Linked DNA regions of Homo sapiens. The protein of the gene in region 1 purifies or fractionates together with the protein of each later gene. This does not show direct contact. Each region holds a gene or a part of one and is shown in the gene's direction. Other genes may lie near its edges.

Region 1 (3,523 bases):
CACATCTAGCAAACGTCTGTAGCCTTCTGTACACCAGGCATATGGTACTGGGTGAGAGTCTTGGGGAATAAAACAGAATCAGACATTGCCCATGAGGAGCCCACAGACTAGCCAGACGGGGTGGGTGTCTGTGTTTTTGGTTTGGTTGAAGTTGAGTTGACCACTTTATCCGCTGTTGATTTTTGCTTTGGCTAGGTGTCTGCCTGTATCCCAGTGTTCAGGCTGGCTAGACGGCGGAAGAAGATCCTATTTTACTGTCACTTCCCAGATCTGCTTCTCACCAAGAGAGATTCTTTTCTTAAACGACTATACAGGGCCCCAATTGACTGGATAGAGGAATACACCACAGGCATGGCAGACTGCATCTTAGTCAACAGCCAGTTCACAGCTGCTGTTTTTAAGGAAACATTCAAGTCCCTGTCTCACATAGACCCTGATGTCCTCTATCCATCTCTAAATGTCACCAGCTTTGACTCAGTTGTTCCTGAAAAGCTGGATGACCTAGTCCCCAAGGGGAAAAAATTCCTGCTGCTCTCCATCAACAGATACGAAAGGAAGAAAAATCTGACTTTGGCACTGGAAGCCCTAGTACAGCTGCGTGGAAGATTGACATCCCAAGATTGGGAGAGGGTTCATCTGATCGTGGCAGGTGGTTATGACGAGAGAGTCCTGGAGAATGTGGAACATTATCAGGAATTGAAGAAAATGGTCCAACAGTCCGACCTTGGCCAGTATGTGACCTTCTTGAGGTCTTTCTCAGACAAACAGAAAATCTCCCTCCTCCACAGCTGCACGTGTGTGCTTTACACACCAAGCAATGAGCACTTTGGCATTGTCCCTCTGGAAGCCATGTACATGCAGTGCCCAGTCATTGCTGTTAATTCGGGTGGACCCTTGGAGTCCATTGACCACAGTGTCACAGGGTTTCTGTGTGAGCCTGACCCGGTGCACTTCTCAGAAGCAATAGAAAAGTTCATCCGTGAACCTTCCTTAAAAGCCACCATGGGCCTGGCTGGAAGAGCCAGAGTGAAGGAAAAATTTTCCCCTGAAGCATTTACAGAACAGCTCTACCGATATGTTACCAAACTGCTGGTATAATCAGATTGTTTTTAAGATCTCCATTAATGTCATTTTTATGGATTGTAGACCCAGTTTTGAAACCAAAAAAGAAACCTAGAATCTAATGCAGAAGAGATCTTTTAAAAAATAAACTTGAGTCTTGAATGTGAGCCACTTTCCTATATACCACACCTCCCTGTCCACTTTTCAGAAAAACCATGTCTTTTATGCTATAATCATTCCAAATTTTGCCAGTGTTAAGTTACAAATGTGGTGTCATTCCATGTTCAGCAGAGTATTTTAATTATATTTTCTCGGGATTATTGCTCTTCTGTCTATAAATTTTGAATGATACTGTGCCTTAATTGGTTTTCATAGTTTAAGTGTGTATCATTATCAAAGTTGATTAATTTGGCTTCATAGTATAATGAGAGCAGGGCTATTGTAGTTCCCAGATTCAATCCACCGAAGTGTTCACTGTCATCTGTTAGGGAATTTTTGTTTGTCCTGTCTTTGCCTGGATCCATAGCGAGAGTGCTCTGTATTTTTTTTAAGATAATTTGTATTTTTGCACACTGAGATATAATAAAAGGTGTTTATCATAAAAAAGAAACAGTATTAGATTTTGGTCTCCATAATCTATTTTGGTATTGTTACGAACATGGATATGACAACCAAACTGGAAATCAGAACACTAGGGTAAAGTGGATATTGAAATGAAGCAAGAATATTGTCACACATGTGTTGTGCATCTTGTTTAGGGTATATTTCTTAATGTCATCTAGGTCATTAGTTTTGTTAATATTTGTGTTGTCTTGACCAAGCTCCTACTAAGTATAGGACACAAATGTTTTTTATCTTCCAAGGCCTGGCTCAAATGCCACTGCTGCAAAGCTTTCTTTGACCCTCTGGCCACCTCCCAAGCCAGAAGTTATCTTCCCCCTCCATGTACTCTAGCCTTTTCATGACACTGATATTTTCGTGACACTGACTTATAGTTCACTGTTTACCTGTTGGTCTAACAGCAAATCATAAACAGTAGTTTTCAACATACTTCTAAGGCTAAATTCATTTCCAGAAGTAGCAAAGCTTACTAGCCAAAGGCTCCACATTTATCAACTCTTAAGAGCTAGACTTGAGAGCCTAACAGCCTATATGATTTTGTGTAAATTGATCTCTATACCTCAGCTTCTTCATCTGCAAAGTGAGATAATTGTACTATTCTACTTTCCTCATAGTGCGGTTATAACAGATTATGATAATATTACAAAGTACTTAATACTTGGCATATAGTATATATATTAGCTATTAGTATTTTGCAATTTGGGGATATTGAAAATTAGAAATTGCATGTTAGTTCATGCTGCACTACCATATTGTTCTTTTGGGGCTCTTCAATGGGTGAAATTCCATTTTACAGTTTATCATGTGCATCTGTATCACAGGAGTATTTTGGCAAAATGATTCTGTACCAAAAAGGAGTACTATAAAATGAGGGTGCCAAATATATTGAGTCTTTTATGGGATTAAAAGTTCTGTTGCATTCCATTTTCTTTGGCATTGTGAAAGCTTACCATGTAGTACAGAAGGTATGATTTGGTTCATGTGTTTCTGAGAAATGCAGCCTTTCCAGGAAGCCTGGTGGCTCTTACCATGGAGTTTAGCACAGATAGACTTGGCCACACTGTGACCTACAACATGGTGCTTACCTTACTAAGCAGCACTAAACATTTGCATATTTGACCATTTTTATGCAAATCCTTTCAAATGGACTACATGGGTTCATGGACCCTGATTTTAGCTTCACTTCATTGTCCTAAGCCGGAGTGAGTGACAATAAGATTTCACAGGTCTGGGAGGGATGGAGTCCTGCCTGCCATGAGCTTCCAGCTTCTGACCATTAGTTCCTGGTTCCTGGACCCTAGAATGGAACTTTGCCCTTAAGAAGTGTTCACACCTTCCAAAACTAAGCTGAAGTTAGGGAAAGTAGAAGCATGAAACATTGAAGGTGAATTGTTGGGGCCTTATCCATAGTAATTCTGGTAATTACTTTGTGCAGGGCAGGAAAGGAGATACATACATAGCAGATGCTTAATCCTCAACAATTCACTGAGATGTAGGTATTCTTCCCTTTTAGATGAATGTAGTTAAGCAAGTTGCCTGCGTCCCATGGCCTTGAAGAATGGACAGAATCTCAAGGCCCTCTGATTCCAAAGTCCAACCACTTTACTATTCTTCAGTCTGCCCTCACCCTAACCAAATTCTTTGTGTAATGTTTTTTCAGTACAACTCCCTCTGCAGCACTGCAGTTGTAGTTGTACAGGTCTTTGGGTTTAGAAAGACTTTGCTGTTTACTGTCCATTTGCCTCTTCCCATCAGTCTTCCGAGGTGAGTATGATTATCCCCCATCTTACACACAAGCTCAGAGAGGTGAAAGACTTGCCTGAAGGCACACAATTGAAAA
Region 2 (4,732 bases), on another chromosome or scaffold:
TTTAGAATCTGAAAGTCTGATATTCTAGAAATTCCAGGGGCCTGTAGTTCTAGAATGGCTGAATCCTTCCCATAAAGATGATGACTTTCCACACATGGGGAGAGACCACGCTTACAACAGGTCCCATCCTTCACTGGGTGACCTGAGTGAGGTCAGTCCCTCCTGTCTTGGGACCTCCTCATTAATTAAGCCAAAATAGACTCTAGATAATTGCTTGGGGCCCTCTGGGGTTCTGAGACATTGGAAGCCAGCCTCAAATACCCAAAGCCTTGGGTCATCTCAGTGATCATCTCCAGCCTCTGGGATGCAGAATCCAGATTTCAAGCTCTAGAACCCAGAAATAAGACTACAGGACCAGAATAGAGACCCTGGGTTCCCAGACTCTAAATTCAGACTCTAGAGTCAAGATTCTAGCAATCTCAGAATCGTGAAAGCCAGGTCCCTGTCTCTCAATTCAGCCTTTTAAAAATTTATTTACTTATTTATTTATTTATTTAGATTTTTCATAGAGATGAGGTATTGCTGTGTTGCCCAGGCTGGTCTCAAACCCTTCAGTTCCAGCAATCCTCCTACCTCAGCCTCCCAAAGGCATGAGTCACTGGGCCCAGCCACAGTCCAGGTTTTCAATGCAAAAACAGATTTGAAACTCCAGACTGTATGTTCCAAAGTCTACTCCTGAAAGCTCAGAGGCTAGATCCACCCTGTAGAATCCAGACCCCAAGCCTGGCATGGTGTCTCACGCCTGTAATCCCAGCACTTTAGGAGGCTGAGTCAGGTGGATCACTTGAGATGAGGAGTTCGACACCAGCCTGGCCAACATGGTGAAACCCTGTCTCTACTAAAAATATAAAAATTAGCTGGGCGTGGTGGTGGTCGCCTGTAATCCCAGCTACTCAGGAGGCTGAGGCAGGAGAATCTATTGAGCCCAGGAAGTGGAGGTTGCAGTGATCTGAGATCACGCTATTGCACTCCAGCCTGGGTGACAAGAGCGAAACTTCATCTCAGAAAAAAAAAAAAAAAGAATCCAGACCCCACAATTCAAAATCCCAAATCTACCATTTGTAGTCTAGGCCCCAGGCTTCTCATAGCAGGTGCAAAGGTTTCCAGCCTCGATTGCCAGATTCCAAACACCAGATTCCAGGCTCCTATTGTGGGTTCTAGATTCGAATGCCCCGGGATCCAGAATCAAGGTTCACGATCTGTCACTCAAAGGCCCGACTCCAGGATCCAGATTCCAGACCCCCAGCCCAAGAACTCAGACTTTGAAATCCATATTCCAGACTGCAGGTCATTAATCTCCAACTCAAGATCCTCAAATCCAGAATCCAAGACCCAGATCCAGAACCAGATCCGGATCCAGAACCCGGGATCCAGAACTCTGCCCCAAGCCCAAGAACAGGGACTTTAGGATCCAGTTTCCACACTCCAGACCCCAAATTCCAGACTCTGTCTTTTGATCTCCTCCTAATTTCTGTTTTTGTCCTCCTGTCCCCTCCCCCTTGAGGAACTGCTCCTGGTGGAGAATTCCTCTTTGTGGACTCAGACAACAGCTTCAACCTAATAAATGCTCATTAGGCCAAGTCTCCCACCCCACCAGCAACCAAGGCGTCTCTGCCTGTAAACCTGACTCTCAGCCACCTCCCACCCCACCCTACACCACCACACCCCCAGACCCAGCTGGGACTGGGAGCTTATAAATTCAGGCATCCTGGTACCTGCTCCCTTCTGGCACCCAAGCTGCCCTAGATGCTGCTGGAGGATCTGGAGGAGGTGAGAGCTTTGAGACAAGACTGAGGGAGGGGCAAAGGGGAGATTCACTGTGCCCTGGTTTCAAGGGGAAACGTTGACCACGCTTGGAGAACTGAGTGTCAAGGGCATGGGTAGATCCACGTGTCCTTTACCAATGCCCCAAATTGAACCTGAACCAAGAAAATGTCCTGGAATGGCCAGAAGGAGCTGCAGTGGTGGGGAGGGAGGGGGATGGAGTGGATCAGGAGGACGTCCCTGAAGTACTTGTATCAGAGCCAAGAACGTGGTCAGGAGTGATCACGGGTTCAAGTCAGTTCAGCACAACCTCCCGGAGGCCTCCTGTGTACCAGGCCCCAGGTGGGGCAGTGCTGAGGTCACAGAAAGAACCTGACCTGAGCCCCATCTTCAAGACCCCCAGATGGAGAAAAGAACAGGCCAGACCTCAGCAAGTATGGGGCATCTGCGCTGTAATGGAGACAGAATGGGTGCTGTGGGATTCAGGGGAGACACCTGTTAGGTGTTGGGGCCTCCCAGAAGAGGTGGGGGCAGAGTGTCAGAGGACAAAGATGAATTTGGAAGATATGGGGAAGAAGGATTTCAATTCACCCTCAAAGCTTCCTGAGGCCTCCCGTGGGTCGGGCCCTGCAGTACTGGAGACCCAGAGTGGAGTCAGACCAGCTCCTCGGGGAGCTGCCAGTCTCGTAGGGGAGGCAGACACCACTGAGGGTCAGGGGAGGTCAGAGAAGGCCTCAAGGAGGAAGCGGGGCTGGAAGGGAATGGCGTTGGATATGCGGTGGGAGGAATAGCCTAAGCATGAAATGGCAGGAGGGAAAATGGCAGCACTGGCTGCGTCTAGGACAAGGTCATGGGAGACCCAGGGAGAGGGGCTGGAAGGGAAGAAGCCACTTTTGTCCTTGAAAGTGAGGCTGGAGCCAGGCAACTCATGCCTGTAATCCCAGCACTTTGGGAGGCTGAGGCGGGTGGATCACTAGAGGTCAGGAGTTCAAGACCAGCCTGGCCAACATGGTGAAACTCCGTCTCTACTAAAATTACAAAAATTAGCTGGGCGTGGTGGCACACACCTGTAATCCCAATTGCTTGGGAGGCTGAGGCAGGAGAATCTCTTGAACCCAGAAGGCAGAGGTTACAGTGAGCGGAGATCACGCCACTCCACTCCAACCTGGGCTACAGAGCCAGACTCCGTCTCAAAAAAAAAAAAAAAAAAGAAAAAAAAAGAAAGAAAGTGAATTTGAAGAGCTGGACTTTATCCTGGTGGTGCCAAGGATCCATGGAGGGTGGTGAGCAGGGGAGGGGCACAGCCAGCTCCAGATGTAGAAAGACCCTTTGGGGTCATGGCTGGAGGGCAAGCTGGTGGAGGGGACTGGACTGGAGGGGGACCCAAAAGGCCAGATAAGAGGGTTGAGATAGACCAGGCGCGGTGGCTCATGCCTGTAATCCCAGCACTTTGGGAGGCCGAGGTGGGTGGATCATGAAGTCAAGAGATTGAGGCCATCCTGGCTAACACGGTGAAACCCTGTCTCTACTTAAAAAAAAAAAATTTCCAAAAAATTAGCCGGGCACGGTGGTGGGCGCCTGTAGTCCCAGCTACTCGGGAGGCTGAGGCGGGAGAATGGTGTGAACCTGGGAGGTGGAGCTTGCAGTGAGCCGACATTGTGCCACTGCACTCCAGCCTGGGTGACAGAGTGAGACTCCGTCTCAAAAAAAAAAAAAAGTTGGGACAGGGGTCCTTGGTGATGATGGAGAGAGATCCAGGGGCTGGTAGCATGGTGCTGGAGGCTGACAGGTGGAGGAGGTGGGGCAGGGTCTGTCCGAGTGCCTAGAGGAAGAGTAAACCTTCCAGAGATGGGGGACCCAGAAGGAAGCGCAGAGTGGGGTTGGGGGAAGGGGATACCGGTGGTCAGAAGAAATTTATTAACAGTGGATGGGATAAGTCTGTGTCTGGAGGGATCCTGGTGGAGGCAGAAGGGTCCTGCCTCACCTGGATTCTCTCACTCCCTCCCCAGACTGCAGCCGAACCCTGGTCCCTCCTCCACAATGTGGCTTCTCCTCACTCTCTCCTTCCTGCTGGCATCCACAGGTGAGGTGGCCCCAGGAGGGGGCCAGGTCTGTGGGAGCAGGTGCCCCCTTCCCAAGCATGTCTGGGCCCAGTGATCTGCCAGCCCCTACCTCACCCAGAGACCACTAAAGATCCTTCCTTCACCCTCCACCTGTGCCAATGTCCCTAAGCCCTTACCGTCAGGTGCTGGTGCTGCTGCTCTGGAGTCGCTATGTTGCCTGGGGCCTCTCGCTGCCCACGACAAGGAACACGGTCCTGGGGTTACACAAACCTGAGCTGAGTCCTGGGGCAACCGCTTCCTTGCTGTGTGTCCTTGAGGGAACTGCTTCACCTCTCTGGGCTTCGAATGCCTTCTCTATAAGACAGCACCCACTTGAGACAATAACAGTGAGGTCTCAATAGCATAACAGAGGTAATATACATAGCAAGCATTAGACAAGTGCTGAGAGGCCAACAGCACAGACAGACTCCAGCTTGAGTCCCACACCTGCCACTCCCTGTCTCTTACAGGGTCTTTGAGGGGATTAAATGTGGTTGTGTGTGAGGCAGAAGCATAAGCCTGGCCCAGGTAGTGCCCCTTCAGGTGTGCAAGCCAGGCACGGTGCTTAGAGCTTACATACAACGTCTATGTGTGGTGGGCACCACCGACCTCATTTGACAAGGGAAGGGGCTGTGGCTCAGAGGGACGGCCACAACATCAAGGTCACCTTGGGTGTCAGGCAAACTCCAGATTGAACTCAGCTGCCACACACCAAGAAATTAATTGTAACCTGATGCCTCTCTTCTGGAGAAATTGGGGGGTGGACTTTCATTAACGTTCTGCCACAAATGACCCTCACTCCTGGGGGCCCCTGAGACCCCCACGCCTCCAGCCTCCCCTCCGGCTCTCTCTGTGCACTCACCTAC
Region 3 (3,535 bases), on another chromosome or scaffold:
CAGGTCAGCAGGGAAAACAGTTGGGAAAATGGTCAGCCCTCCTGAAATGCAGCAGGTGGTGATTTTTGTGTTTTGAGTCTTGGCACACCTTGCTGTTGAAGCAGTTGAACAAATAAAGGAATGGAAAAACAGGTGCTGACCCAAAGCTTGAGACAGCTGGTTGGTTGCCCTTCGTTGAAAACCACACGGCCAACCCAGAGTCTTCAGGTTTGGGGCGCAGTTAAGCTGTGGGGCACCCTGCGTAGGCTCACTGTGTTTCCAGAGGCTTTATGACTGCACACTGGGGCCGCCTGAGACCCAGGTTTATATGTGAATTTAGCAGACAAGTAAAAAGTGCTGAGTCACATTATAAATGCAAATTTGGAGGAGGATTTGAAATGCTTTCATTAAGACACCAAAGCAGGACACTTGTAATACAGCAGTGCCAGGAGAGGACAACCCTGCCATTCTTTGGGGACCTAGATAAAATGGCTCCACTGTCCCCTGCTGAGAGTGAGCAGGCCATCAGCATCGCGGTGGCCGGGGCTCAGCTGCCTGACGTTTCTTTGGCCCCTGTACTGTGTTGATTTCACACACTGGGCACAGCCATGCTGGCGGTGTCTTGAGAACACAGCCATGAAAAGATGGAGAAAGCAAACACAGTTTCTGTCTTGGAGCACCACATGGATTTAGATTCAGAGTATGATTTATTTTGTTTTGGAGAGTTTTATTATGAATTTTTTTTCTCCCTTCTTTGCAAAGACATTACAGAGCTAAACCCAAACAGCTGAGCCTATCAGGGCCTTGGAAAAGCATTTTTGCCTGAAACTTGAGTTTTTCCTAATGAAGTGACTTTCCTCTTCCATCTTTTTTGTTTGCTTGGTTTTCTCATAGGTCATTTGATTGCCCGCCTCAGAACGATGGATCTGCATCTCTTCGACTACTCAGAGCCAGGGAACTTCTCGGACATCAGCTGGCCATGCAACAGCAGCGACTGCATCGTGGTGGACACGGTGATGTGTCCCAACATGCCCAACAAAAGCGTCCTGCTCTACACGCTCTCCTTCATTTACATTTTCATCTTCGTCATCGGCATGATTGCCAACTCCGTGGTGGTCTGGGTGAATATCCAGGCCAAGACCACAGGCTATGACACGCACTGCTACATCTTGAACCTGGCCATTGCCGACCTGTGGGTTGTCCTCACCATCCCAGTCTGGGTGGTCAGTCTCGTGCAGCACAACCAGTGGCCCATGGGCGAGCTCACGTGCAAAGTCACACACCTCATCTTCTCCATCAACCTCTTCGGCAGCATTTTCTTCCTCACGTGCATGAGCGTGGACCGCTACCTCTCCATCACCTACTTCACCAACACCCCCAGCAGCAGGAAGAAGATGGTACGCCGTGTCGTCTGCATCCTGGTGTGGCTGCTGGCCTTCTGCGTGTCTCTGCCTGACACCTACTACCTGAAGACCGTCACGTCTGCGTCCAACAATGAGACCTACTGCCGGTCCTTCTACCCCGAGCACAGCATCAAGGAGTGGCTGATCGGCATGGAGCTGGTCTCCGTTGTCTTGGGCTTTGCCGTTCCCTTCTCCATTATCGCTGTCTTCTACTTCCTGCTGGCCAGAGCCATCTCGGCGTCCAGTGACCAGGAGAAGCACAGCAGCCGGAAGATCATCTTCTCCTACGTGGTGGTCTTCCTTGTCTGCTGGCTGCCCTACCACGTGGCGGTGCTGCTGGACATCTTCTCCATCCTGCACTACATCCCTTTCACCTGCCGGCTGGAGCACGCCCTCTTCACGGCCCTGCATGTCACACAGTGCCTGTCGCTGGTGCACTGCTGCGTCAACCCTGTCCTCTACAGCTTCATCAATCGCAACTACAGGTACGAGCTGATGAAGGCCTTCATCTTCAAGTACTCGGCCAAAACAGGGCTCACCAAGCTCATCGATGCCTCCAGAGTCTCAGAGACGGAGTACTCTGCCTTGGAGCAGAGCACCAAATGATCTGCCCTGGAGAGGCTCTGGGACGGGTTTACTTGTTTTTGAACAGGGTGATGGGCCCTATGGTTTTCTAGAGCAAAGCAAAGTAGCTTCGGGTCTTGATGCTTGAGTAGAGTGAAGAGGGGAGCACGTGCCCCCTGCATCCATTCTCTCTTTCTCTTGATGACGCAGCTGTCATTTGGCTGTGCGTGCTGACAGTTTTGCAACAGGCAGAGCTGTGTCGCACAGCAGTGCTGTGCGTCAGAGCCAGCTGAGGACAGGCTTGCCTGGACTTCTGTAAGATAGGATTTTCTGTGTTTCCTGAATTTTTTATATGGTGATTTGTATTTAAATTTTAAGACTTTATTTTCTCACTATTGGTGTACCTTATAAATGTATTTGAAAGTTAAATATATTTTAAATATTGTTTGGGAGGCATAGTGCTGACATATATTCAGAGTGTTGTAGTTTTAAGGTTAGCGTGACTTCAGTTTTGACTAAGGATGACACTAATTGTTAGCTGTTTTGAAATTATATATATATAAATATATATAAATATATAAATATATGCCAGTCTTGGCTGAAATGTTTTATTTACCATAGTTTTATATCTGTGTGGTGTTTTGTACCGGCACGGGATATGGAACGAAAACTGCTTTGTAATGCAGTTTGTGACATTAATAGTATTGTAAAGTTACATTTTAAAATAAACAAAAAACTGTTCTGGACTGCAAATCTGCACACACAACGAACAGTTGCATTTCAGAGAGTTCTCTCAATTTGTAAGTTATTTTTTTTTAATAAAGATTTTTGTTTCCTAAAAATGCATCAAGTCTCAGTTTTCAAAGTGTGTTTTGGCACTTGAATAGCACACATGATAATAATTCATGGATATATATGGCACACACAGGCCACCTGCATGAACATGCTCAGAAAAAGAGTGCTGCTGTAAAGCAAAAGCTACCAGGTTAACTTGTTTGAAATGATATAAAAAGAAAAAATCATTTGAGCACACTGCATGGTTTTTAAAAAAATTTTCAGGCAATAGTGTTTTTGGTGTGGGGGATGATTGCTAGGGTCCAGCTAGGAGAGAAGGCTGGCACAGAGAAGGTGCCACTTGCTTCTACTTCCTGCTGGCCAGAGCCATCTCTGTTCTGAACCTGTCTGAACTCTCCGTCCAGACAGGAGAGTTTCAGGGTGCAGGACTGGTGTCCTCATCTGTACCACCTGTGTGCTTCCAGGGCCAGTGGCACAGCCCCTTAAATCTCATCTGCTAAGGTAAACACCTCCAGGGGCAATATTTCCTATTGAGAGTTTTCATTTAAACCATGCCAATCAGCTACCCCCTTGAGGCCACACAATGAGCGAATCCCCAGCTTGCGCATGTCCTTACTAGTGGTTGGAAAGAGTGCTCTCAGAATGGCCAGTTCCTGCTGTGCCCTCTCTAACTCTACCTGGAGCCACAAGAATGGCGGAGACTTCAACAGACGAGTCAGCTGGGCAGGGGCTCAGAGAGGGGCTGGGCTCCCAGCACTGCCCTCACCACCTCCACCTCTGCCAAGACCTCTCTG
Region 4 (4,005 bases), on another chromosome or scaffold:
ACAGCAGGATGTGTGAGCCGGGGCTCTGTCCCAAGGCTGTGTGACCTCAGCGGCCTTGAGAACAGACACCAGCAGGTGGTCATGGCTTGACAGATACCCAGAGTGAGTGTCACATAGAGACCCAGGCACACCCCGCTGCTGATACATCAGGGCCCATCCCCATAACACAGGGACACATTCGAGATGCAGCCTCAGATCCCATGCGCATAACACAGACCACACACCAGCCACACAGAGCTGCTCACCTGGGTAGGCGTGTGTGCACACACACGCATGTGCACGGAGGGTCAACGCAGATGCCACACCAGGATGTGGTTTCAAACATGGCCACCTAATTCAGAAACACAGACACAGACTCAGATATACACTGACAGAGAAACTCACACACACACTGACACGCACACACACACACAGCAATGCAGGCATAACCTGGTGACAGAGAGACATGAGAGTCAGGCACAGAGAGTGTCCTCAGATGTTCAAATCTAAACAGTCTTAGACATAAGCTCTCACAGAGAGGCAGAGCTGGAGACACAGAGACAGAGATCCACACACAGAGAACCAAAGAAGCTGCCTTGTAGAATGTAAAGTCAGGCATGCAGCCAGTCAGACAGACACATGGACAGACAGCCGCATCCCAGACTCAACATGTGCAGGAGGACAGACACACACACAAAACAGATGGACAAGTCGGGCATGGTGGCTCACGCCTGTCATCCCAGCACCTTGGGAGGCCAAGGCAGGAGGGTAACTTGAGACCAGGAGTTCCAGTAGCCTGAGTAACATACCCAGACAGACCCAGCCTCTAAAAAAACACAAAACATAGCCGGGCCTGGTGGCGCACACCTGTAGTCCTAGCTACTCCGGAGGCTGAGGAGGGAGGATTGCTTGAATCTGGGAGGTTGAGGCTACAGTGAACTGAGATTGTGCCACTGTACTCCATCCTAGGCAGCAGAGCGAGACCCTGTCTCAAAAAAAAAAAAAAAAAAAAATGCCAGGAAAGATGGCTCACACCTGTAATCCCAGCACTTTGGGAGGCCAAGGTGATAGATCACAAGGTCAGGAGATCAAGACCATCCTAGCCAACATGGTGAAGCCCCATCTCTACTAAAAATACACAAAATTAGCCAGGTGTGGTGGCATGCACCTGTAGTCCCAGCTACTCAGGAGGCTGAGGCAGGAGGATCGCTTGAACCAGGAGGCGGAGATTGCAGTGAGCCAAGATCATGCCATTGCACTCCAGCCTGGGCGACAGAGTGAGACTCTGTCTCAAAAAAAAAATCGACAGACCCTTAGATTCAAACACAACCATTACAGAAAGAGGGACTCAAGCACAAACAGGGGAGACTCAGACACACCAACCCTCATAACCAACCTAGGGTCAGACACACAAATACAGACCCCCACTGACACAAAGCTCCCTTCCCAGACTCCAGGCGAGCAGGGACTGGTGGAGAGTGGCTTGGGCGGCCCCTGATCAACATCCCCACATCTCCCCACAGCTGTACCTGGGCATCGTGCTGGCGGCCGTGGTGATCATCACTGGCTGCTTCTCCTACTACCAGGAGGCCAAGAGCTCCAAGATCATGGAGTCCTTCAAGAACATGGTGCCCCAGGTGAAGGGTGCCCAGCAAGGGGCCAGACGGGGGTGTTAGTGTATGGGCTGGGGGCCGGGCCCAGTGACCCCCAGGCAGAGGGAGTCTGGGAGGTGACATTACTCCATCCCACCTCAGCAAGCCCTGGTGATCCGGGAAGGTGAGAAGATGCAGGTGAACGCTGAGGAGGTGGTGGTCGGGGACCTGGTGGAGATCAAGGGTGGAGACCGAGTGCCAGCTGACCTGCGGATCATCTCAGCCCACGGCTGCAAGGTGGGCCTGGGCCTAGGGCCCGGCTTTACCCTCCCTCGGGCTGCCCAGGAGCTCAGGCCCAGCCCCTCCTCCCTCACACTCAGGAGTCCAGGTCCCAACCCCTCCTCCCTCAGACCCAGGAGTCCAGGCCCCCAGGCCCTCCTCCCTCAGACCCAGGAGTTTAGGCCCTGGGCCACCTCCTCACCCAACAGTCAGGAGTCCAGGCCCAGCCCTCACCTTTCGGAGATCCTTAGGGACCCTAGACCTTGGCCAGCAGCACTGTGCCTTCCCCACCTTCAAGATCCCAGCCTCTGGCCTCCCACACACCACTCACCCACTGGGCACCCAGGCTTCTAGCTGTGATCTCCAGGCACACAGGCTTCAGCCCCAAGCCCTGTACACAAATACCCTCCTGTCCCAGGCCCTGGACTGAACCCTCTCTCTGCTGCACCTACCCCCAGGTGGACAACTCCTCCCTGACTGGCGAATCCGAGCCCCAGACTCGCTCTCCCGACTGCACTCACGACAACCCCTTGGAGACTCGGAACATCACCTTCTTTTCCACCAACTGTGTGGAAGGTGAGGCGGGTGCAGAGAAGACACACAGCTGGGGCAGACACAGGGATGTGTCCCAGGGGGTCAGGCCTCCAGAACCTCCCTGAGCCACCCCACCTCAGCCTAACCCCTCTGGCCTGCAGGCACGGCTCGGGGCGTGGTGGTGGCCACGGGCGACCGCACTGTCATGGGCCGTATCGCCACCCTGGCATCAGGGCTGGAGGTGGGCAAGACGCCCATCGCCATCGAGATTGAGCACTTCATCCAGCTCATCACCGGCGTGGCTGTCTTCCTGGGTGTCTCCTTCTTCATCCTCTCCCTCATTCTCGGATACACCTGGCTTGAGGCTGTCATCTTCCTCATCGGCATCATCGTGGCCAATGTCCCAGAGGGTCTGCTGGCCACTGTCACTGTAAGGCCAGGCTCCTGGGTCTGGGTGGGGAGGGCCTGGGGGTCTGGGCTCCTGGGTCTGAGGGAGGAGGGGCTGGGATCCTGGACCCCTGAGTCTGAGGGAGGAGGGGCTAGAGGCCTGGACCCGTGTGTCTGGGGGAGGAGGGGCTGGGATCTGGACCCCTGGGTCCGGAGAAGGGGCTGGGGGCCTGGATCACAGTATTCTTGTGAAAGACAACTTGGGCCTGACTCAGAGGGCCTCATTAACAAAGCAAACAATCAAAGAAAGAAACAAACAAAAATCTTGAGAAACACTGGCAAGCCGTAAAGAGCCAACAATCCTATTGCAAAATTAAGAAGTGCACGCTCATGATGAAAAGTTGAAGAGTACATCAAGTTAAAAAATAAAATAATGAGGCTGGGTGCACTGGCTCACGCTGTAATCCCAGCACTTTGGGGGGCCAAGGCGGGCAGATCAGCTGAGGTCAGGAGTTCAAGACTAGCCTGGCCAACATGGTGAAACCCTGTCTCTACTGAAAATACAAAATTAGTGGGGCGTGGTGGCACATGCCTGTAATCCCAGCTACTCAGGAGGCTGAGGCAGGAGAATCGCTTGAACCTGGGAGGCGGAGGTTGCAGTGAGCCAAGATCACGCCATTGCACTCCAGCCTGGGTGACAAGAGTGAAACTCCATCTCAAAAATAAATAAATAAATAAATAAAATAAAATAATAAGCCTGGCGCAGTGGCTCACGCCTTTAATCCCAACAGTTTGGGAGGCTGAGGCAGGAGGACTGCTTGAGGTCAGGAGTTTGAGACAAGCCTGGACAACATAGTAAGAACCCATCTCTACCAAAAAATGTGAAGGCTGGGCGCAGTGGCTCATGCCTGTAGTCCCAAGACTTTGGGAGGCCGAGGCGGGTGGATCACCTGAGGTCAGGAGTTCGAGACCAGACTGGCCAACATGGCAAAACCCCATCTCTACTAAAAGTATAAAAATTAGCCAGGCGTGGTGATGGGTGCCTGGAATCCCAGCTACTCAGGAGGCTGAGACAGGAGAATAGCTTGAGCCTAGGAGGCAGAGCTTGCAGTGAGCCGAGATCGTGCCACCTCACTCCAGCCTGGGCGACAAAAGCGAGATTCTGTCTCAAAAAAAAAAAAAAAAAAAAAAAAATTTTTTTAAATTAGCCAGGCGTGGTGGTACATGTCTGTAG
Region 5 (4,005 bases), on another chromosome or scaffold:
GAAGCAGTAAATGTTTAAAGTGAGTTTTTGAGATGATTAGAGTTACTGTGGTGAGGCAGAGAAGGGGTGTTTCCAAGGGAAGGAGCAGCGTGTGGGAAAGCACAGAAGAGTGAGAAGGAAGTGACTACATTTTATTTACTTCTATGCGTGTAAGTCCATAAGATCTTATATAAAGTTTCCACTTCGGTTGAGGAATATGTACTTTTTTGAATTACATAGGTTTTTGCTTTATATTGTTTTACAGCATGGCCTCACACCACTGTTACTTGGTGTACATGAGCAAAAACAGCAAGTCGTGAAATTTTTAATTAAGAAAAAAGCGAATTTAAATGCACTGGATAGATATGGAAGGTATAGTTCTTTCTTTTAATCTGTGTGTTGTAGATGGACAGCAGTCACTCAAGTCATAAATATTAAATTAATAAGATTAATGTATACTTACTGGGATGTAGTGATCAGTATCAACACAAATCAGTTAGGTAGAAAAACAATTACTTGGGCTGGGCAACATAAAGAACAGTTTTAGTAGGATTCATCTTCTCTTATTATATTGACTGATGTTATTTGTTATGTGACATTTTTGGTTACATGATCTTATGTTAGCTTAAAGGATTTCATATTAATTTTATGAAGTTTGAACTTTAACTTTTAGTTTACTTTATGACTCAGTATTGAACTTCTTAACCCTTTCTAATAGTTTTTAACCTGTGTCTTACATGCTTTTCCATTAAATATGCTGTATTAAACATAAATAGGGGTTGAAAATCCTTTTGTCTTTTTAATGACTTTGCTTTAAGTTGCTTTCTTTGAAGAATATTAGTGTTAGCTTATCCCTACATAACAATTAATTGCTGTTCCCACATACTGTGGGTTCAACAGCTTTTTTCCTTTTGTTTTTCCAGTGTATTTTGATGTTTTTATTTTTAATTGGTATGGAGAGAGGGAGTGAAGATAGTTTTAAGTGGATACACTTTTCCTTTAATGAAGACAAGCCGTACGTGGGTGATAAAGAGAAAAGAGCTAGGCTTTGGATTCACACAAGACTGGGTTTAATTAGTAACTTTCTTACTTGCTAGGTGTGTGACCTTGGGGACGTTATTTACCACCAAATATGTTGTCATATATGAAAAGTAGGAGAATATATCCTTCAAAGTTGGCTGTGCATAAGTAAGAAAGATATATGTGGCATTTAATTCAGTGCCTAGCACATGGTTATTGGCACCATTAACTGAAACTCCTATGACTACTATTCTTACCATTATTATTACTGCTTTGAGCATGCAGAGAGCTCTTATTTCTCTTACCCCCTAGCTGATTTTCTATTACAGCATGTCAGTCTAGGGAAGCTGTGACAAAATCTTCACTTAAATCTTTGTCCACCTCAGATAAGTGGCCCTAACATTGTTTCTTGCCCATCAAAGGACTTTAAATTAGTAGCTTCTGCTATGCAATACCCCACTGAGATAAGAGGGTTTTTTTTGGTCCCTTCCTTTTAACCTTGGTGGCATTTTACAAAGATGAACACTTGAGCACTCAGGTTGCTTATGTCTTTTAGTGCATGTAAATGTTTGATTCTGCACAGACAGGCAAGATGTTACATTGGTAAAGTATATCAAATTAGCTTTAAAAATAACTTTATTACAGTTCCTATCTCTGTCATTTTAGAACTGCTCTCATACTTGCTGTATGTTGTGGATCAGCAAGTATAGTCAGCCTTCTACTTGAGCAAAATATTGATGTATCTTCTCAAGATCTATCTGGACAGACGGCCAGAGAGTATGCTGTTTCTAGTCATCATCATGTGTAAGTGTTTACATTAAAAGGCTAGTTAATGCTGAATTGAGGTTTAAAATAATTATAACAGTTGCATCTCACATATCAGGTGAGATGTCATAGTTTGGTTCAGGTAGTTTTCGCGTGGCAGTGAGTTTTAGTCCCCTGCATCAGCCAGAAATCAGACAAAAAGCAAGACAAGTTAGAAGTACCAATGGGTGCGGGATTCTTTATCTCAGGACTTTTAAGATCTTTATCCTTAGAGATCCCAGCATTGTTCATTTGATCCAAGTGTAACACCTATGCAGGGATAAAAAATAGTGTCACATCTTTAATTTTTCTGATTAGTTATTTGGGTCTTGAAATGTCCAGTTTAGCGGAAAGTCTTGTACTGTCTTCTGGGGACTATGTCCTACATACTCCTTGAATTTTTCAAGAACCGAAGGAGTTCACTAAATCCAAGGAAGACAGTCCCTTTTATCAAGTCAGAAGGAGGAGGAAAAAAGACATTGCAATCATTCTGTTGTTTCCGTTGATTCTGTTGCTGCTTTGTGGCCACTCAAACTGGTCCTGCTGCCTTAAGATGAATCAGTAGATTCAGATCCCTCAAGTCTTCATGGCGATTCATACAGTGACTTTGATGTTTTTTAATTCCCATACCTATGCTTATATGCTCAGCCATTGTTCCCAGAGCACCAGCCCCCTGCTCTGGCCGCTGGGCATCCTGACTTTATCCGCACACAAAGTGACCAAATTGACCCTTCCCCGCATATTCAGAACCTAATGTGGAACCCACATCTTAGCCAGGAATTAGCTGAGACCTTCATGGTAAGAGATCCTTTGAGGCTGTTGTTGGTCTTTTCTCTGGCAGATGTTAGGTGGGCTTGTTCTAAAGGGTGAGAGGGGTTCAAATAATGTGGCAGAAGGAGGTCAGTGTCTGTTTCCTCTTTGCTACCAGATCTGTACTGTGAGGCACCTTTATATCCTGTATAGAACCTTGGGCAGTAGAAAGTCCCGTATGAACCTTGCCCTGAGCAGTGGCTCCCAGCTGTGGTTGGCCCCTTGAGTGATCTGATTTACATGATAATGAAAATTATCGGAGCTACTTCCATCTCTAGCTCAAGATTTTAAGATATTTTCAAACTCTAGCTCACAGGAAGCCATTGAAGAGAATTCTCAGAATCTCAAGTAGGTTAGTTGGACTTCACAGAGCCAAGCCTTGTCCATGACGCATCACTAATCATATGTAAAAGTAGGGCTTTGTGCTTGCTTCGGCGGCACATATCCTAAAATTGGAACAATACGGGGAAAGTTAGCGTGGCTTCTGCATAAGGAGGCAGGACAGATCTTTGAAGCATTCCATATTTTGTGCAGTCACTGGAAGGTCATTTGACTATTTTTGCTGACTAGCTCTGAGGAAATAGTGTGAATCAAAGCAAAATGGGTGCCACCCAAATATTGAAATTGTGATTTGTGCTGCAAAAATAGTCATGTAAGATGGTCTATGAGATGACTTTGAGCTGAATAACATGTTCCGTGCAAAATATATTGTTAGTATGTATGTCGAAAATTACAGAATGTCAGCTTGCTACTTCTCCGTGGAAACTAAAAAAAAAATAAAAGTAGACTTTTGGTCTCCCATGTCAGCTGGAATTGAACATCAATATAAAGCATTATCCTAACAGACATCTACTGGCTGAGAGTTTGAGTCGGTAGAGAAGGATCGTTGGTCCAAGTCAGGTCTTAACATCCATTGGTTTTTCTGCCCTTGGTGTGATTGATCAACTCCGTAATAGTGGACAATCACATTATCTACTTTAATGAGATATTTATGAATAAATTTAGTTATAAACTATGACATAGTTGAGATGCCCTGAATTATAAGCCATAAAGAGTAGGACAACTAAGAAGCAAAATTAGGACTTAATAACATTTTCTGAAAACTACAACATTTGCATATTAGAACCTATGAACAAAATACGCATTGGGTTTTATTTGGGATTCCAAGATAATTTTAGTCATAAAGTTTAGGAACAGATTATTCCATTGCTTTACTATTTCTCTGAGCATTTAAAAAATGTTATCTCGTTAAATCTTTATAACAACCTAGTGAAATAAGGCAGCAAAGTCCTCACTTTGTTGAAGAAGACATTGAGCCTAAGAGAAGCAAGTTGTCCAAGAACAAATAGCTGTTCATTATGGAGCTAGGACTTATGCAGAGTTGGGACACTT
Region 6 (4,586 bases), on another chromosome or scaffold:
TTTGCTGTTGAGTTTTGAGAACAGGGGCTGCGGCAAACAATCTCATCCACACCTCCTGGAGCACATGCCTAAGGTTTTCTCACGGTATAGACCTAGGAGGGAAACGGCTGGATCACCTGTGAATTCCACTTTCGGGGTCGCCTGCTCTTTGACCTCATCTCCCACCCCTCTCTACTTTGACTACCAAGCTCCTGTCACACTGGCCTCCCCTTCCTTGAACAAGTCAAGCCCATTGCAGCCTCCAGAACTTCGCACCTGCTGTCGCCTCCCTTCAGAGCGCGTTTCTTTCAGGGATTCCCGTGGCTGGCTTTTACTTATCCTCAGGACTCCATCAGATATGACCTCCTCAGCCCAAATGTCACTTTCTCTGTCCCCCCCATCTAAATGACTTACTCCCATTCCTACCCCAATCACCTATGTTTCATTTTCTTTTCTTCTCTGTTTTTTTTTTTGGTTTTGTTTTTGTTTTTTGAGACAGTGTTGCTCTGTGGCCCAGGCTGGAGTGCAGTGGCATGATCTCGGCTCTCTGTAGCCTCTGCCTCTCCGCTCCCAGGTTCAAGTGATTCTCCTCCCTCAGCCTCCCAGTAGCTAGGATTACAGGTGCTGGGATTACAGGTGCTCACCACCACACCTGGCTAATTTTTGTAGTTTTAGTAGAGATAGGGTTTCATCATGTCTCGAACTTCTGACCTCAAGTGATCCTCCCACCTTGGCCTCCCAAAGCGCTGGGATCACAGGTGTGAGCCACCGCTCCTGGCCTAGACTCAAACTCTAGAAGGGCTGAGACCATGCATTTTTCACAGCTGTATCCCCTAGAACAGTGCCTGATACATAGAGAAAAAGTGCTCAACAAGAATTTTTTTGTGGAGGTGGGTACTAATATAAATCTCATGTTAGAGAGCAGAAAACTGAGACTCAGAGAGGTTAAGCCATGCGCCCAAAGTCGCAGAGCTTGAAGGTGGCAGAACCAGGATTGAACCGTGGTCTGCCCGGTTCCAGTGCCCCTGTTCTTTCCGAAAGAGGAGGTCTTGTCCTGACATGAGCTTTTCTTCCTGAACTCTTGTTATCAGTTGGCCACTCCACACCACCTGTCCAGCCACCTGTTGGAGGGAACGCTAGGTCCTCCCTTTGGCTGTCACTTGTCCATCTGCAGCAGGCGAGGACTGTGGCCTTGGACCATGGGAGACCTGGAGTTCCACCACCTGTTCTGGGAGTGGGGCCCAATCAGCCCCCCTGCTTACCTTCTGCCCTATATTAGAGCCCCAGGCTCTGTGCCCTTTTCCTATCATCACAAAACTCATGATGCTCCGGCTGCTCAGTTCCCTCCTCCTTGTGGCCGTTGGTAAGACCCCAACCTGTCTGTGTGCTCCCTGGGCTGCCCTGGACTAGGAATCCTTGAAATCTACCACTCGCTCTGAGTCCCATGACATGCTATGCCTGGTTCCACAGGAGGGGGTCTCAGCTTGTACCCGGGGGCATGACTGTAGGGGCTTTCAGCTTATGATGGAGCAGGAGAGTGGAGGGGAAGCTGTGGATGGTGAAAGACCCCCAAAGGGCTGTGGTGGAAGTCCTTGATGGGGGCAGTAAACAAAGTCAAACGGTTAAGAGTTTGGACTGTGTGGTTGGACTTCTTGGGTTGGAATTTCCACAGTTCTACTTACCACTCCAACTCTCCTCTCACTCCCCCTACCTGGCTCCATATTCTATGCTCTGGCCTTTTCCTGGTCTCTCTGCCATATTACATTCCAGCTCAGGGCCACCTCTTCCAAACAGCCTCCCTTGACTGACAATAATGGTAACAGATAACATTGATTGAGTGCTTACTATGCCAGGCAGAATGTTTAGGGATTTTCTTATACTTTCTCATGTAATTCTCACAACAGCCTCAGGAGATCAGTACTATCATTATCCCCCATTTTACTGACCCTCAAGGAAGTAAAGTAGCTTATCATAGAACAAAAGGCAGAGCTGCACTTAATGTTTTTATTTTTTGCTTTTTTTTTGTAGAGATGGGGTCTTGCTTTGTTGCCCAGACTGGTCTCAAAATCCTGGCCTCAAGCAATCCTACCACCTTAGCCTCCTGAGTAGCTGAGATTATAGGCACATGCCACCATACCTGGCTACTTTATTTTATTGTACTTTATTTTTCTAGAGATGAGGTCTTGCTATGTTGCCCAGGCTGGTCTCAAACTCCCGGGCTCAAGCGATCCTCCCGCCTCGGCCTCTCAGAGCACTAGGATTACAGGTGTGAACCACCACACACAGCCCAGAGCTGCACTTTGAACCCAGGAAGTCCTTCTTTAAAGCCTCCACTCTGTATGACAATAGCTCTCACTTTTTGAGGGCTCATCGAGGGCCAGGCATTGTTCTAAGTGTATCAAGCTCTTCAATCCTCCCAATGAAGGAGGCCACATTTGAATCTCTATCCCTGGACTCCTGGGATTCTGGAAAGCCCTGCTCTAGTTTAAATGTTCACTGTTCATATGTGGTTACTGAGGTCCAGAGGGCGAAAGGGGCTTGCATGGGGTCACACAGCCAGTTGAAGGCATGGCTTGGACTGGGACCCTGGCCTCCTCTTTGCTTTTGGGGACCCTCCAGCTGATTGACAGCTCTCCTCTCCCCTCTAGCCTCAGGCTATGGCCCACCTTCCTCTCACTCTTCCAGCCGCGTTGTCCATGGTGAGGATGCGGTCCCCTACAGCTGGCCCTGGCAGGTAAGAGCAATAGCAGCTGCCCTCATTCCCACCGTGGGCTCTGGACCCTAAGCTCTAATGGCGTGGCATCCAGCCTTGACACCATTGCTCCCTTTGCAATGTCCACTTCAGCTTCCAAAGACCAGGCAGCCCTTGGACCATCTACTTCACGGGGAGGTTTTGCCCGTTTCATCTGTAACCCTCACTGGGCTATTTGCAACTTAAAATTGGAATCGGGGGTGAAGGAAATGCTAAACTCAAGGAGTTGGCACACTGATGGTGGAATTTCAGGCACTGTGTTGACGAAGTGAGATTTTGAGAGACTCATTTCTAGATTCCTAGGATGATACTACAGGGCTTTGAGGTCTGAAAGCAATAAGGGAGTGAGGGATCTTGTAAGGCCAGTGGAGGGAAGCTCAGAAGGCTGGACTTGATGTGCTGTGGCTATTTAAATTTAATTAAATTAGGCCAGGTGCGGTGGCTCACGCCTGTAATCCCAGCTACTCAGGAGGCTGAGGCAGGAGAATCCCTTGAACCTGGGAGTTGGAGGTTGCAGTGAGACAAGATTGCACCACTGCACTCCAGCCCCGGGCAACAGAGTGAGACTCTGTCTCAAAAAAAAAAATTAAATTAAATTATTATTACTATTATTATTGAGACAGAGTTTCACTCTTGTTGCCCAGGCTGAAGTGCAATGGCACAATCTTGGCTCACTGCAAACTCTGCCACCCGGGTTCAAGCAATTCTCCTACCTCACCTCCCAAGTAGCTGGGATTACAGGCACGCGCCACCAAGCCCGGCTAATTTTGTATTTTTAGTAGAGACAGGGTTTCACTGTGTTGGCCAGGCCAGTCTGGAGCTTCTGACCTCAGGTGATCCACCTGCCTCGGCCTCTCAAAGTGCTGGGATTACAGGTGTGAGTCACTGCACCCAGCTGAAATTTACTTACATTAAAAATGTTAACAATTCATTTCCTCAGTGCTTTTTTCTTTTCTTTTCTTTTCTTTGTTTTTTTTTTTTTTGAGACAGGGTCTTGCTGTGTTGCCCAGGCTGGAGTGCAGTGGTGTGATCTCAGCTTACTGCAGCCTTGACCTCCTAGGTCCAAGCAATAATCCCACCTCAGCCTCCTGTGTAGCTAGGACTACAGGCATGCGCCACCATGCCCAGCTAATTTTTATACATTGTTGTAGAGATGGGGTCTCACTATGTTGCCCAGGCTTGCCTCGAACTTCTGAGCTCCAGTGATCCTCCTGTCTTGACCTCCCACAGTGCTGGGATTATAGGCGTAAGCCACCATGCTTGGCCTGCTTGCCACATTTCAAATGTTCAATAGTCACATGTGGCTAGTGGCTACCATATTGGACAGCAAAGATATAGAACATTCCCATGATTATGGGAAGTTTTATCGGAGAGGGTCAGCAGGCTTATTCTGTAAATGGCCAGAGAGTGAATATTTTAGGTTATTTGATGGTTTGGATAGTAATGACTTGACTGTGCCATGGTAGCATGAAAGCAGACACAAACAATACAGAAATGAATGTGACTATTTCCAGGACATCTTTATTACAAAAACAGACCAGAAGCCTGATGTGCCCCACTGTCCACAGTTTGCTAACCCTGGTCTAGATGGAGCTTTTGAAAATCAGAATGTGTAGGAAATGGGAAGAGAGGCAAAGAACTCATCAGGGTGAGCTGTGCTTCAGAAGGCTCAAGAGGCCTTGAAAGAGCTGAGGTTCAAAAGAGTCAGGGGGGCTGGGCGCGGTGGCTCACGCCTGTAATCCCAGCACTTCGGGAGGCCGAGGTGGGCAGATCACCTGAGGTGAGGAGCTCGAGACCAGCCTGGCCAACATGGTGAAACTCCGTGTCTACTAAAAATACAAAATTAGCCAGGCAC
Region 7 (4,005 bases), on another chromosome or scaffold:
TCATGTTGAGTTTATTTATAAAAGTGTTTCTCCAACTTAAGTTCTCTGTGATACTTTTTCATAATTTTTACCATATATACCACCTGTGTTGCCTGGACCATACTTCGAGGGAGCATTGATTTATAATATGTAGGTAACCCAGCAAGAAGAGTTCCTCTTGCTGGCCCAGCCCTAGATCTCTTAGTTAACTACAAACAGTTTTTCAGTTGTTCACATTAGAAAAGTTGCAGCATGGTCAGTGTCACATCTCAAACTCTTTTTCTCCTGTTTGTGATTTCTGTCTTTCTTACAACCAATTCACATATCCCTTGTGTCTAGTTCTTTACATTGTGTTTAGGAGCACAGACTCTGGAACCAGACTCGGGCCTGAAATCCCAAATTCACCACTTACTCTGTGAACTTAATATGTCTTAATATATTTGTGCCTTAGCTTTCTTATGTGTAAAACAGGGATGATAATAGTACGTTCCTCATAGGTTCTTGTTAGCATTGAGTAAGTTACTATGTGAAAACTTTTAAAACCAAGTCTTTGTACATAAGTGTTTACTACTATTTATTGTTTGTTTTCCTTTCCAGTTCGACTAAGAACTTCTTGGGTCAGGTTAATAGAGGTGCCATTTAATTAGAGCTGTGTCCTTTAGGGTCCCAACAGGAAACAGATGCTATACTCAAAACAGGACAATTTTAGAAGAGTTTTTTTTAATAAAGAAGCTGTTTACAAAGGCGCAAGTTCAGAGAAACAACAAAAGACAGTGAAATAACCTGGATCTAGGACATAAGCTATTAACAACCCCTAAGCCTGAAGGGACAAGGTTGAGGAGTGGTTACTAGAACCTTAAAGGAAAGAGAATCGTGTAGAGTCACTGCCTTGAGAGAAACCTTGACCTTTGGTTGGGCTGATCCCAACCAGAAGCTAGAAGGCATAGGAAGCCCTATTGACACAGTTCATATAGGCCAGTCTTCTGAGCCAGAGAGCAGAGTGGAAAAAGGTACAGAGTGAGTTGGGAGGCAAATGAAAGATGTCCAGTACAGAGCTGTCAGAAATAGACAATGGTAATTACAACAGGACTGTGAACCTTGGGGGAGATATTTCAGACAAAATATGATTCTTCCTGTCACCCAGAAAATAACAGAATCTTTTTGGTTTTCCCCTTAAAATTCTTATTAGTTATTATGTACTTGTGTTTGCATAATCCCTGGAAGGGCATCCAAACTATGTAAAAATAGTTAAATGTAAGCGCTGCGATAGATGGGAAATACTGCTCAACATATCTGTTTATATCATTTGATTTTTGATCCATCTAGTATGTTATCTATTTTTCAAGTAAATTTTAAAAATCATTTCTGGAAACCGAGAGCATGGTTACTACCAGCAATACTCCTGGAATCACAGGGCTTTGCAAACTGGTTTTCTGTAGTCAGAAGTTAATTATTTGCATGTGCTCTTTGTACTCTTATAGTATTACAGGTATCCCCAGTGCCTAACTCTGCTGTCTGCTATATTTCAGCCTTTCATCCGCTGTAGTTTACAATGCAGGGATCTGGTTGATGAAGCAAAGAAGTTTCATCTGAGGCCTGAACTTCGGAGTCAGATGCAGGGACCCAGGACAAGGGCTCGCCTAGGTAAGCTGGTATCTCGGCAGAATGAGGGGATGCTTTTCAACTACTTCTTGCAGGTGACAACATAGTTGAAAATAATACTCTATAAGAAGTACAGACACCTCGTTTCAGACCTTTTCTTCTATCATCTCAGACAAGTCACTTTACCACTCTAAGCTTTCTTTCCTATAAATCAAGGATGTCTTCTCTATCTACTTCACATAATTATTTGGAAATTAAATGAGATAAAATATAAAAGCACTTTATACATTGTCAGGCATTACATAATATGTTACAATTTTTTGTCAATATTATTTAGATTCTGTGAATTAGAGATAATTTTAGTGCCACATAATGGCAGGTAAGTAGTATATGCTTCCACCCACCTCTTCACTTCCCCTTATGTGGTTTTTCCATTCCGGAATGAAGAGAGGAAGAAAAGGAGCCCAGTGTGGTAGAAAGTACATGGGTTTTGGCAGTTACTGTTGGTGCAGGTACCAGTTTACCTCGTACTAGATTTATTAACTTGGGCAGGAACCTTAACCTCTGTGTGCTTCAGTTGCCTCATCTGTAAATGGAATCATCGTAGCACCTGCCTGTAACATTGTTATGAAGAGTAAATAAAGTTATTTATGTAAAGCCTTAAAACACTTCTTGGCACATAATAACTATGTGTATTAGCTATTATCTTAGCAAATAGACCTAGGTTCAAATCCAAGCCCCAGCAATGACTGGTTGGGCAAGGTATCAATTTATCTGAGCCTGTATGTCTACCACTAAGATGAGAGTTAGTGTCTTATCTCAGTGTTGGGAGGATTGAATGAGATAATGTATATAAGATACCTAACACTATAGCTGGCACACACTAAATACTCAGATATCACCATACTTTCCACTTCCTATTCTCTTTGCTTCACTGTCCAAAAGCCTAGGTGTATAGTGTATAAAAACATTTTATAAGTTATGAATTACTCTATATGTATGGGGTGGTATTTTGTTTTATTGTTTCCTTTTATCTGACTGAGGACTCATGATGCGTGCTAAGGTGTTAGTTGATAATTAAGCTGCTCACTGATGGGTTTAGGTAGAATGGTGATTTATCCGCTATATTTTATTTTTTTTAATAGAAATGAGGTCTCACTATGTTGCCCAGGGTGGAGTGCAGTGGCGTGATCTCGGTTCACTGCAGCCTTAGCCTCCTGGACTCAAGCAGTCTTCCCACCTCAGCCTCCCAAGTAGCTGGGACCGCAGGCACGTGCCACCATGCCTGGCTAATTTTTATATTTTTTTGTAGAGACAGAGCCTTCCTTTGTTGCCCAGGCTGGGTCTTGAACTCCTGGACTCAAGCAGTTCACCTGCCTTGGCCTCCCAAAGTGCTGGGATTACAGGCCTCCCATATATATATATATAATTTTTTTCCTTTTTTTTTTTTTTTTAAGACAGAGTCTTGCTCTGTCACCCAGACTGGAGTGCAGTGGTGCAATCTTGGCTCACTACAACCTCTCCCAGGTTCAAGCAATTCTTGTGCCTCAGACTCCCGAGTAGCTGGGACAACAGGCGACTGCCACCATCCCTGGCTAATTTTTGTATTTTTGGTAGAGACAGGGTTTCTCCATGTTGACCAGGCTGGTCTCTAACTCCTGGCTGCAATTGATCCACCCACCTTGGCCTCCCAAAGTGCTGGGATTACAGGCATGAGCCACCATGCCTGGCTCCCTCTCCTATATTTTTTAATGGCATAAGTACTGCATGTTCAATGTAGAACTTGTAGAAATACAGAGAAGCAAAAAATAAATAAAAATCATCCATAATCTTACCACTCAAAGATACTGCATTTTTTTAAAAAGAGAACTTTTAGATAGGGCATTGTAGATGGTATTTTCTACTACTGCAAGATGACAAAATGTGATCTGTGTTTCATATGCTTTATACACAGATACATATCAACACAAGATAGATTGAAGGACTGAATGGTGAAAAACTATGAGAATATTAGAAGAAATTATAGGAAAATATTTGTATACCTTCTGGATGGAAGTCTTTTTTTTCTTTTTTGTAAAATATATGTAACAGGCCGGGCACGGTGTCTCACACCTGTAATCCCAGCACTTTGGGAGGCCAAGGTGGGCAGATCACTTGAGGTCAGTAGTTCGAGACCAGCCTGGCCAACATGGTGAAACCCCATGTCTACTAAAAATACAAAAATTAGCTGAGTGTGGTGGTGCACACCTGTAATCCCAGCTACTCTGGAGGCTGAGGCAGGAGAATCGCTTGAACCCGGGAGGCGGAGGTTGCAGTGAGCCAAGATTGCACCATTGTACTCCAGCCTGGGCGACAGAGTGAGACTCCATCTCAAAAATAAATAAATTAATTAAATAAAATATATTTAGCATAAAATTTACCATC

What was found.
Region 2: the proteins of ALG2 (region 1) and KLK15 purify together in Homo sapiens (co-immunoprecipitation; one large-scale study listed by IntAct). This does not show direct contact.
Region 3: the proteins of ALG2 (region 1) and ACKR3 purify together in Homo sapiens (co-immunoprecipitation; one large-scale study listed by IntAct). This does not show direct contact.
Region 4: the proteins of ALG2 (region 1) and ATP1A3 purify together in Homo sapiens (affinity purification with mass spectrometry; one large-scale study listed by BioGRID and IntAct). This does not show direct contact.
Region 5: the proteins of ALG2 (region 1) and POTEF purify together in Homo sapiens (affinity purification with mass spectrometry; one large-scale study listed by BioGRID and IntAct). This does not show direct contact.
Region 6: the proteins of ALG2 (region 1) and CELA3A purify together in Homo sapiens (co-immunoprecipitation; one large-scale study listed by IntAct). This does not show direct contact.
Region 7: the proteins of ALG2 (region 1) and KLHL12 purify together in Homo sapiens (co-immunoprecipitation; one large-scale study listed by IntAct). This does not show direct contact.

Annotation. Positions count from the first base shown.
Region 1 is NC_000009.12:99,215,509-99,219,031, reverse strand, and holds the end of ALG2 (alpha-1,3/1,6-mannosyltransferase ALG2), read left to right. Parts: intron 1-195; coding exon 196-1,098; 3' UTR 1,099-2,607; downstream 2,608-3,523. UniProt on the Homo sapiens protein: Mannosyltransferase that operates in the biosynthetic pathway of dolichol-linked oligosaccharides, the glycan precursors employed in protein asparagine (N)-glycosylation.
Region 2 is NC_000019.10:50,830,565-50,835,296, reverse strand, and holds the start of KLK15 (kallikrein-15 isoform 4 preproprotein), read left to right. Parts: upstream 1-1,722; 5' UTR 1,723-1,770; intron 1,771-3,773; 5' UTR 3,774-3,804; coding exon 3,805-3,847; intron 3,848-4,003; exon of another isoform or gene 4,004-4,198; intron 4,199-4,732. UniProt on the Homo sapiens protein: Protease whose physiological substrate is not yet known.
Region 3 is NC_000002.12:236,579,567-236,583,101, forward strand, and holds the end of ACKR3 (atypical chemokine receptor 3), read left to right. Parts: intron 1-873; 5' UTR 874-899; coding exon 900-1,988; 3' UTR 1,989-2,788; downstream 2,789-3,535. UniProt on the Homo sapiens protein: Atypical chemokine receptor that controls chemokine levels and localization via high-affinity chemokine binding that is uncoupled from classic ligand-driven signal transduction cascades, resulting instead in chemokine sequestration, degradation, or transcytosis.
Region 4 is NC_000019.10:41,983,727-41,987,731, reverse strand, and holds part of ATP1A3 (sodium/potassium-transporting ATPase subunit alpha-3), read left to right. Parts: intron 1-1,502; coding exon 1,503-1,616; intron 1,617-1,733; coding exon 1,734-1,868; intron 1,869-2,308; coding exon 2,309-2,426; intron 2,427-2,545; coding exon 2,546-2,814; intron 2,815-4,005. UniProt on the Homo sapiens protein: This is the catalytic component of the active enzyme, which catalyzes the hydrolysis of ATP coupled with the exchange of sodium and potassium ions across the plasma membrane.
Region 5 is NC_000002.12:130,108,341-130,112,345, reverse strand, and holds part of POTEF (POTE ankyrin domain family member F), read left to right. Parts: intron 1-244; coding exon 245-351; intron 352-1,665; coding exon 1,666-1,803; intron 1,804-1,988; exon of another isoform or gene 1,989-3,059; intron 3,060-4,005.
Region 6 is NC_000001.11:22,000,376-22,004,961, forward strand, and holds the start of CELA3A (chymotrypsin-like elastase family member 3A preproprotein), read left to right. Parts: upstream 1-1,281; 5' UTR 1,282-1,299; coding exon 1,300-1,342; intron 1,343-2,627; coding exon 2,628-2,713; intron 2,714-4,586. UniProt on the Homo sapiens protein: Efficient protease with alanine specificity but only little elastolytic activity.
Region 7 is NC_000001.11:202,906,628-202,910,632, reverse strand, and holds part of KLHL12 (kelch-like protein 12), read left to right. Parts: intron 1-1,508; coding exon 1,509-1,623; intron 1,624-4,005. UniProt on the Homo sapiens protein: Substrate-specific adapter of a BCR (BTB-CUL3-RBX1) E3 ubiquitin ligase complex that acts as a negative regulator of Wnt signaling pathway and ER-Golgi transport.